Linked DNA regions of Homo sapiens: region 1 is linked to region 2. Evidence: fine-mapped expression QTL. A gene starts in region 2. The other region holds a variant in brackets. All regions are shown on one strand. Distances are between the middles of the regions.

Evidence for each region.
Region 1: its variant is fine-mapped to the expression of FAM216B in monocytes after R848 (Quach 2016, PIP 0.95).

The regions. Positions count from the first base shown.
Region 1 is chr13:42,877,115-42,882,499 of GRCh38, reverse strand. No RefSeq gene overlaps it. Among named protein-coding and RNA genes, the nearest start is that of LINC00428, 7.1 kb to the right of the region's middle. The variant T/C (reference allele first, on the strand shown) is at 2,188.
Region 2 is chr13:42,778,644-42,784,028 of GRCh38, reverse strand. FAM216B (family with sequence similarity 216 member B) reads right to left here and starts at 2,445. Exons shown (of 4, transcript NM_001318932.2): 1 at 2,365-2,445.

The DNA of each region.
Region 1 (5,385 bases), 98 kb before region 2:
TAGTAAATGTAGACGTATTTTATAAAGTCAGGACTTTGTAAATGACTAGATATAGATGGAGACTGATGAATCAAAGATGAGTTTCATATTTCTAGCCTGTGTAAATACATTGATGGTGATGTGGCCATATATACAAAATTTATAGTATTTCAGAGGAAGGGAGATTTGATGTGGTCAATAAAGAGTTTCAAAGACTATAGAATAAAATTCCATGAGCTCGGGGACATTGTTTTGTTCAATGCTGTATTCCCAGTTCCTTGAACAGTGCCTAGCACATAGTAGTGATTCAATGAGTATTTGGTAAATGAATGGATTTGATAAAAGAGGAAAATTTTTACAGATGGAAAGAAATAAGTATGGTGGTGGCTGGTGAAGGATTGAGTGCAGGGACATTTAAAGCAGCCACAGTGGTGCAGTGATGGTGGTAAGCACGTGTTTGGGGGACATTGAGGAAGAAGAATGTTCAGGCTAGAGTAACTCCATCTTGTATACTAATTGGCCATGTTGACTTCTGATTAACCCCAGTTCCGAAAATGCCTCTAAAATTTCTATTTTATCTACTGTTAAGAGTGTATAATTACGAATAATTCCTGCCCTTAGGTCAAAACAACCTTGATGTTATCGTAAACACATATATCTTCCCCTTAGGCAAATTCCCTATGATTTGTAAGCCCTGGGTCTGTGGGGTAACAGTGTACTGTAGGGATCCACCATTCGCAGCTGCTTGAGATATGGCTTCTGTTCATAAATCCCTATTATTTCATTCTGAGAATCTGGACTTGTCAGCTTCTTTCTTCAGCTCCTCACCTTCCCTGGCCTTTGGAAGTAGGTTTGTATAGGCCTGCTCACCTCGGAACACACACACACACACACACACACACACACACACACAGAGAGAGGGAGAGGGAGAGAGAGAGAGAGAGAGAGACTAGTGTGGTTGTTGCTTGGAAGTGGGAGACAAGATATAGGAGAGGAGAAACACCCTGGAAGAGAGCTTCTCTCAATGTTTTGGAATTTGTCCCAGTTAATTGGCCAACCCCAGGTGTGATAATCAAGGATAGAAAGATTCTTGGGATAAGGATATCATATTAAGCTAATCAGTTATGAATAAACCTAAACCCCGCCAACAGCAGCTGCTGATGCAAACCAAAGGGCTGGCTTTGCCCCTTTACAGGCAATGCCTGTCCTTTAATCCCTGCAGATGGTTAGCAATGCCATGAGCCATAGCATTTTGGAAAAGAAAGGGGAACCACGGGATTTCTGGAAGATATGAGAATGTAGCTCTGCCATTCACTAATGTTGAAACCTTGGACAAATCTCTTATCTCCACCTTACCTCACAGGATAGGTTGTAGACAAACTGATGGGATAAATGCTCTTAAAAGGTAAATGGGAATGCAAGGTAGGAGAGTAGCAAGGGAAATACTATATTAGTTTTAAATGAAAAGATACTTTCTCAACTCCTTTCTTTATTACTAAAAATGTTGGTCCTTCTTTCTTCCTACCTTATCACCATTTTCTAGATCACCTGGCCATGTATACTTACAGGCCTCAACAGTCTTCCTTCCTTCTCATAATTATCCCTGCATAATTCATTGGCAGGGATTATCAATTCTACCACCACAATATCTTTAGCAACTTTCCCTTTTATTTCAGGCTCACTACCATCCTCTTTAATTGGTTTCTTGTGATGTTTTACAGAGACTATTGTCAGAAAAAACCATTGGATCTTTTTGCCTCCTGCACTTCACTTCTATGGTATAAAGGAATCTTTTGAGGAAGTGCGTGTGTCGTTTTAAGGTTTGTGCTAGCCAAGCAGGGAGGAGGCTTGGAATGCTAAGACAGGTACTCAACAATTGGAGAAGGCAGGTTTTAATGAATTCAAGAAAAGATTGTTTTAATTCTATTTCTCAAGAGGAAACTCAAAAGAATTGGTAAGCTTTCAAAATTATAATTCTATCTTTGCAATCACACATGTTGTTCATGCTGCAGACAAAAGGAAAAGACATTCGGAGCCAAGGTGGCTGCACACTCCCACTGAGAAACTCGGATTTTAAAAAGATGTGCCAAAAAGTGGAAAGAGGCACGCTGCCAAAGATTGTGTTGAAGAAAGGCAGGGACCAGTAACAGATCAGAAGGGCCAAAGACCAGAGTGAGCTGAGGCTTAGAGAAAAGAAAGTAAGGATAA[T/C]GGAGGGCTCTTAAATTTAGAGCAAGAATAAGGAAGGAAGAGGCTCGCTGCCTGAGGCCAGTGGTGTGATGTTGATGGATGACATGAAGAAAACAGAACTCCTTTCCTCCCATTTAGTCCTGTCTTCTCTGTCAAGGAGAGTGATCTTTGGACTGAAAAGGGTAGAACGAACATTGTTAAGAGAAAATTGAAGCCCAAGATGGGTGTAGAGATTATGCGAGAGCATGCATCCGCTGTAAATGAGCCGAAATGTCTGGATCTGAATGAATTACAGTGCAGAGCTCTGAAAAACGTGCGAATGAATTCTCCCTACTTAAGAGGAGGGAGCTTTGGAGGTGGAGGAGGAGAGAAAAGTGAAACCTCCCTTGCAAAAATTGTAACAGTGAGAAAATTATGGCAGTGAAAGAGATCTGATTTAACCAACCCCCATCTTGCCTTTAGCCTTCAAACTGCCCTTAATTATCCCTTGGCTTGGGTCTACCTAGCTTTGGGAGACATTTAGTTTATAGGTTAAATTGCCGGGCACGGTGGCTCACGCCTGTAATCCCAGCACTTTGGGAGGACGAGGTGGGCGGATCCCGAGGTCAGGAGATGGAGACCATCCTGGCTAACACGGTGAAACGCTGACTCTACTAAAAATACCAAAAATTAGCCGGGCGTGGTGCTGGGCGCCTGTAGTCCCAGCTACTCAGGAGGCTGAGGCAGGAGAATGGCGTGAACCCGGAAGGCAGAGGTTGCAGTGAGCCAAAATCACGCCACTGCACTCCAGCCTGGGCGACAGATGGAGACTGTCTCAAAAAAAATAAATACATAAAAAATAAAGAAATAAAAATAAATGATAATACCCTCCTCGCAAGCTTAACCACCTTTGCAAAGCTAATGAGAAACCACCAGACTAGTAGGAGGATAGGAGCCTGAATTCTGCTAAGGTGTAGGCATAAACGATGGCCAGCCATTATTCCGGAGGTCACAAGATATGCTACTTCCCAATTACTCCTGCAGACAACATCACTATTTTAGAACCTAAGATTGGCTTTTGAGATGTCTTTTCAAGTTTTTTGTATGTCTGACACTGATGGCTCCACCTGGACCCACTAGTTGCTCCTGTGACCCCACCCAGAAGTGACTCAGTGCATGAGGACCATTTCCCACACTTTTATGATTGTACCCCCACCAATCAGCAGCAAGCACCCATTGCCTAGCTGTGCCCCCGTCTCTTTATCCTTGAAAAACCCTAGCCTTCGAATTTTTGAGGAGACCAATTTGAGTAATAATAAATTCCTGTGTCCTGTTTAGCTGGCTCTATGTGTGTAAAATTCTTTCTCTATTGCAATTCCCCTGCCTTCATAAATTAGCTCTATCTGGGCAGTGGACAAGAAAAACCCACTGGGTGGTTATAAAAGCAGGCCAACTGGAGACAAGCCAAGTCCGTGACCTAGGAACTGTAGAATCCAGTTTTGGAAAGCACCCTAGGTATCTATTTTAACCATTACCCAATGCATAACTAAATGTACATGTAGAGATGGTTTATGAAGAGTCAATAACTATTATGATAGGCCCAGCTTATCTGTCTGTTATTTGATTCTCTTCCCTTAATGCTTAGTCCTTAATGTGGAGATTGTTTTACAGTTGTCAAAATCATCTTTCTCCTTTTCTTTTTTTCCTTCCTTCCTTCCTCTCTTTCTCCTTCTCTCTTTCCTGTTTCTCTTTCTTTTCCTTCCTTCCTTCCTCTTTCCACAAACATTTGTTGAGTGCACACTATATTGGTGTTGTGTAGGAAAATAACACATAGCTCTTGCCCTTAGGTGTTTATAGTTAATTACAGGGAAAACCATCTTTTAGTTTTTACTTTTTCAACATGTGGTGATTAAGTGCAGAAAGAGCAAGTAAAAATGTAAGATGAGGAGCTTAAATCTTCCTGTCGAAAATAAGGGAAGAAATTTCTCCACTCCTTTTTTCTCTTTCAGAATGTTTTCCCTGGCCGGGCGCGGTGGCTCACGCCTGTAATCCCAGCACTTTGGGAGGCCAAGGCCGGCGGATCACGAGGTCAGGAGATCGAGACCATCCTGGCTAACATGGTGAAACCCCATCTCTACTAAAAAATAAAAAAAATTAGCTGGGAGTGGTGGTGGGCGCCTGTAGTCCCAGCTACTGGGGAGGCTGAGGCAGGAGAATGGCGTGAACCCAGGAGGCGGAACTTACAGTGAGCCGGCGATTGCACCACTGCACCTCCAGCCTGGGCGGCAGAGCGAGACTGTCTCAAAAAAAAAAAAAAAAAAAGTTTTCCCTGTCCTTTTCTATGTATGTGAATCTTTTTAGTGGCTAAATAAGCCTCTGGGCTACCTCACAATCTGGAGTGTTTCTTCAAGGACCTGGACGTCCTCTCTTCCTTGATGTAATCATCAAGGAAGCTAAGGCTTTAGCTTCCGGTTTCCTAAGAGGAGAGGGGTGTAACTTCAGTTGTTGTCTGACTCCAAATTGCAAAGCCTAACTAATGGTAATGGGTTGTATCCCCTTAGCTATAAAAGAGTGAGAGTTCTTTCTGGTCTTTGCCATTTCTTTAGCAGATTGCCTGTAATGTGCATCACTTTCTGGTTTAATGCTTATTTAATAATAAAATAGTTTTCCTTTTACCTTTGTAGAAAGCTTTTCTGGGTTAGGAGGACATTTCGTTTTTAATTATATTTTCCCAGGAGTGCTCACTATGTGCCAGGCACTCTTCCAGGCACCAGAGATATAGCATTAAATAAGACAGAAGCTGCCCTCATGAGCTCATATTCTAGGACAGATAGACACTGAACAGTAAGAATAATATCTAAGGAAATCATGCAGGCAGCACATTAGAAGGCGGGGCGGGGGGGGGGTGGTAAGTGCAGTAAGCCATGTGTAAACAATCGAGTGTGATGAGCTGTGTAAAGAACAGTGGGAGTTTAAAGGAGAGAGAGGTAAGTTATCCTGGGGCAGTTGAGGACTTGATGTTTGAGCTGAATCTTGAAAGATGAATGGTTTTGAAAATAGCTCATTGCTTTAGGGGAGGAGTGGAGCTGGTATTCTAGGAAGTGGAAGATATTTGATCAAAGAAATATACATGACAGCAGAGTACATTAGGGGAAGTCTGCATAATCAGCATCTCATTTGATACCATCAACAACCAGAGGCAGAGATTTTTTTTCTTGTTCTTCCTTTTTCTCTCTTCTC
Region 2 (5,385 bases):
TAAAATTTCTTTTAGCTCAACCAATTTTGGGGATGTACTTAAGTAAATAAGTAAGCAAGTAAATGAATTTTTAAAAATGTAATTTGTTCTAAGGGATAAGAACATTTGCTCACATTTCCAAGTAATTGGACATCACCAGACTACTTAATTCCACACATTTTCCTATTCTCACCCTTTATATATAAAAATAATTATTAATTATTTGTGAAGTTAAGGAATAATTCAGAGCCCTTGTCTTTCTAACTGTTTGGAACAGGTGTGTTGTAGAGCATACTATTTTTATAGTAGTAATTTTTTGATAATTTTAAATAATATTGATTTTCATATCTGATTCTAAAAGTAATATATATTGTTTTGGAAGATTTGGAAAAATTTAAAAATTGAAGAAGAAAATAAGATTACTCATACAAGTTGAGCATCCCAAATCTAAAAGCCCAAAATCTGAAAAGCTCCAAATCCAAAACTTTTTTAGTGCCCACAAGATGCTTAAAGGATATGTTCATTGGAGCATATTGGATTTTGGATTTTTGAATTTGGGAGGCTCAACTGGCAAAGATAATGTAAATTTTCCAGAATCAAAAAAAAAAAATCTGGAATTCAAAACACTTCTGGTCCCAAGCATTTTGGATAAGGCATACTCAACTTGCATCTAACTATCCATAATTATTGTTAGCATTTGGTTGATTTCCTTTTATTTGTTTATTTATTTATATGTTTTTTTGAGACAGAGTCTCACTCTATCATCCAGGCTGGAGCACAGTGGTGCGACTATAGCTCACCGCAGTCTTGAACTCCTGGGCTCAAGCCATCCTCCCACCTCAGCCTCCTGAGTAGCTGGGACTACAGGTACACACCCCACACCCAATTATTTTTTAAATTGTTAGTAGAGATAAGATCTCCCTATGTTCCCTGGGCTGGTCTCAAACTCCTGGGCTCAAGTTATCCTGCACCTCAGGCTCCCAAAGTGCTGGGATTACAGGTATGAGGCACCATGCTGAGCTTCACTTTCCTTTTATTTATTTATTTTTTTTTTCTGTGTACATTGTGTGTAATTTTAGAAAAGGGAGATCATAATTTATACATTTTGTGCACTTTCTCAGATCATTAAATATTCCTTAAAAATATGATTTTTAGTGGCAGTGTAGTATGCCTTTACGTCATTCTCCACTTCTTGCAATTTAGATGTGCAATTTTATAGCATTGTACTATAAAACTATTAAACTTGTCATGTTTCCACTTGCCTGAGAAAGATACAGAATAATAGAGTCACATTTGCTATGATTAAGTCTCCTTTCCTGGTGATTTAGGGTTTAGAGTCTGAAGTGTGTATAATAATATGAATTTAACAATCCAGCAAGAATAGACATATTGGAATAGGTTGCCAAATCACAAAGTGCAAACCCAGAGTATTTTCCCCTCTGCTTACTCCTTTGTCTTTGTTAGCAGTGTGAATTACTGAATGATAGAAAGTAAGACCACAGCAAATCAAACATAGTAACAATCTGCTAAACGTAGATTATTATTAATACCTGCACGTATATTAACTGAAGAAAATAAACTGTAATAGAGGCTGTATGGCCTTTAGAACTAGAAAGACTTGAGTTTCTTTCCTTCTGTAAGCCTCAGCCCTCTCATCCTTAAGACAGCAGTTACAATGCCTACCTCACTGGGTGTTTGATTCACTGAAATCGTGAATATAGAATGCTCTCACTTTATGCCAGTTTCTTCTCTCTCTACCCGACCTTCACGCATGTTCATGCACACAAACACATGCACACTCATAGGTTCATAAACATACACATGCTTAAGGAGTATTGTAATACATGTGGAGACTGATTTGAGTTCACACATCGAAGGTTCCATTCTTCCAGAAGAGAAATTTATTAGGAAAACATTAGTCAACATCTCTGTGTGTACTGTTTCTGCTATATAAATGTCTAAATTAAACTGTAAATATTTTAGTCAGTACTGCTTTCCTTTAATGTGCACTCCAGAAACCATACCAACCAAGATATACTCCTGTAATATTCTCTGTGATTGACACCTACGCTCTATCCTGTACTCAAATCATTTCAATATCCCTCCTCCCATTTTCCAGATCTGTAGAACAGAGAATAAATATGCTTCAAGCTGGAAAGATTTCTTCTCTCCTCAAATAGCATAAAGAAATGACTGATGCTCTTTCTTATGGCAACAATTCATGTGTGCTTTTCTGGGGCTACTGCTGAATAAATTTATCTTACCTATTCAAGTGGCCTATACCTGATAAAATTTGATTAAAATACTCATGGAATTCAGGGAGAGAAACATCTACAAAATAATATATCTGAAACAAAAAGACAGATTTGCCTAAAAAGAACTTACCCTATACTGTAGTTCCCCCACTTTTAAAAGCTGCCATTCCTATTCAGTGTAGTTTTCTTACGCGGACTCTGTTTATATGCTGGTGGTGGTGGTGGAAGTCTGTTGATAAGCTGATATCCAAGCAACATCATGTGATGAAACAAAGAGCTGGGGAAATCTGGCTGCATGCCTTTCTTCACTTCTGGGTAACATTCAGCTACACAGTTTGATATTTTTTCTTCCACATTTTGTGTCTAATCAAGTGTCATCTTCTAAATCTACCATATCTGTGTTACATGCAGATATCGGGGGTAACATGCATAGAGGCAGAGATTCTAAATATTAAAGGTCAACAAATCCATCAGGGCAATGGGCCATGACATAAATATTTCCAAAATTTGGAGTCAGTAGTCCCCTTCCTCATTGCTCAGGATGATGAAGGAAGAGTTCCTGAATATAGAGGTATGGGCATGAATTTGCCTGTGGTAACCTATGAAATTATTCCATAGTTTAAGCTAAGTTCCCTTTCATTTTGTGGGGGAATAAGATATTCTCCATATTTTATCTTAATTAGAGGCTACATATGATGATAATTAACCTGTGGCGTAAGACTAGAGCCCACACTGACCTCATCCTTTCTTCTGTGATAGCATTATTCTACTGGCTTCCTTTCTTTCTCAAGTGTCCTCCTTCTGAATGCCAGCTTATCTGCAAAGATGAAGAGTTCCTAAAGAAAAGGGAAGAAGAAATATCAAAAGAAAATACATTCAAAATTCTTAGGAGACTAAGGGGAAGAAAAAAGCAGGGAGATGAGAGTGATGAATCATATGCCTTAAAGAAGAAAGGGCTCAACAGATGCAAAAGTCTTGCATTTTTTCCCCAGTAATTTGAATGCAGACCTCCTGGGAAATAAGCACAGCACAAACAAGTGTCTTTAAATGCCAGTAAATAACATAAAATCTTTCACTGGATCTGAGAGGTTGATGATTCTTTACCAAGAGATAAAGAACAGTGGTGTGCAGAGTTGACATTGTCAATCGAGTCTTCCTCAAACGTTTTTCCAGGATATGATGAAATTCATTCTGGGTGCACTGCATCTGCTGATGTTGCACACACATGCTGAAATTCCTACCAGCTTGCCTTGGACGCTACTCAATCAGGAGAACAGTAACAGATCTGTGTTTGACAGAGGGCATTTAATGTAAGGAATCTGTTATGAAAATATAGAAATGGGTTAGAGGAGTAAAACAAGAAGGGTTAGGTTATCCAAGGACTGGCAATTGCACTAAACTGTGATTGCACATAGAGCTGGAGGACAATAGGGAAAATGATTTTACCCACAGCCCATGGACACTGTGCCATAGAGGCTGCTTCCTTTGGAGAACTGCTGCCTGAGCAGCGCCTCAGGAACCTGTGCTCACCAGGCACCCTTGCTTCTATGTTCTTGCCCAAACTGCTAATCTTGCTGTTGCTGTCACCACTGTTGCTGTCCATGTGGCTGCTGCTGCTGGCACTGCCACAGGTGCAAGCAGAAAGTATTTTTAAAAAATGGCTTCTTCCCTCCAGCCTTCATTCATGTCCTGCCCTCCATTGGATGCCAGCTAGCAAGGGATTTTGGGAAATGTATTTTGCAGTCTTCCTACTACTCTGATAAACAGAAGGGTATAGAAGAATCAACATGAGGCCGACAGATGGTGGACACTCTCTAACACAAACACAAATCTAAGAGGTACCTTTGGGACCTATGAAGTCAGGCAGGAGGATGAAGGACTTAGACATACAGTCAATGTTTACCTAACATCACTGAAAGTTGTCAATTTATAAGAAAAGAGGAAATAAGATAAAACTAGCTATGTAGATGGTATCAAAGAATGAGATCTAAATTTGTAGACATATTTTAAAATATAAGAATGAGGGAGTAATGCATATCCTAAGTTTGGGACAAAAAATGTTTTCCCAAAGACTAGTTTAACATTTCAAAAAGGATTTAAACTGATTACAAAAAAAATGGGAAAGAAACACCCATAATCTAATTACTATAGGGAATACAATGTCAACTATTAGTAGAAAAGTTGTACTATTTCACAGTTAAAATATTGGTACAGCAATGAGACTCACTGCTTAAGACATTGGCTGTTTAGAAGGTGGGTGATAAAGTGTTTTCATGGAATATCAGGGTAAATGTGACCTCATGAGTGATACCAAGTGAGGAAGAGGGACTCCTGATTGGAATCCAAGATGAAGTTAAACTCTAATTCAAAGAAACCCACCTGCTAGAGGGAGAGTGCCACTGTACATCATGGAGGTACACACTTTCCCGAAAAACTATGAACCCGGAAGGAAATGCTCTGCTCACATCCTTTTGCCAGGATCCTCTTAGCTGCAGAGATGTCTGTGAGGTTGTCTCTGCCAGGCACAGACATGCTGCTTGACTATCCAAGCCCTCAGAGGACCTCCATGCTCCTTAAGGAAGAGAAGGCAGTGTCCCTCTCCCCACTCTACTGCTGTTTATCCCCTGGACTCTACTTAGTCTTCTAGAGTCTTGGTTGAATTTCATTTCCCATTGAGCTATGTAGTCCCTTGAGCTCAAATTTTTTGGTGGGGGAAGAGGAGTTAGTTATTCCTAATTATCTTGTTTTTTCTTTGACCTCTTCATAGAAAACCCCTACTTTTCTGAGATTCCAAAACAAAAGCTGTCATATACACCAAACCTATAGGAGCCACTGGTCACAAAAATAGGGATATTTAGAGTCAGTCTTAGTTTGGATTATAAGAACCACTTTTAGTGAGTGAAAACTACTTGGGACACTTAGAAGCAGTGATTATCGGCAAAAGAAAAACTGGATGTGGTCAGATACGTGCTAAGACTTTGGAAAAACAGATTTCAAACAATTCGGGAAAAAAGTCTAAAGTGGACTTGAGAAGGGAATATCCAGAGATTTAGTTTCAACCCTATAATCTCAAATAAAATCTATAGAAGAAAGAGATAAGATATCAAAAGATTTGCATTTCTCTGATGGCCAGTGATGATGAGCATTTTTT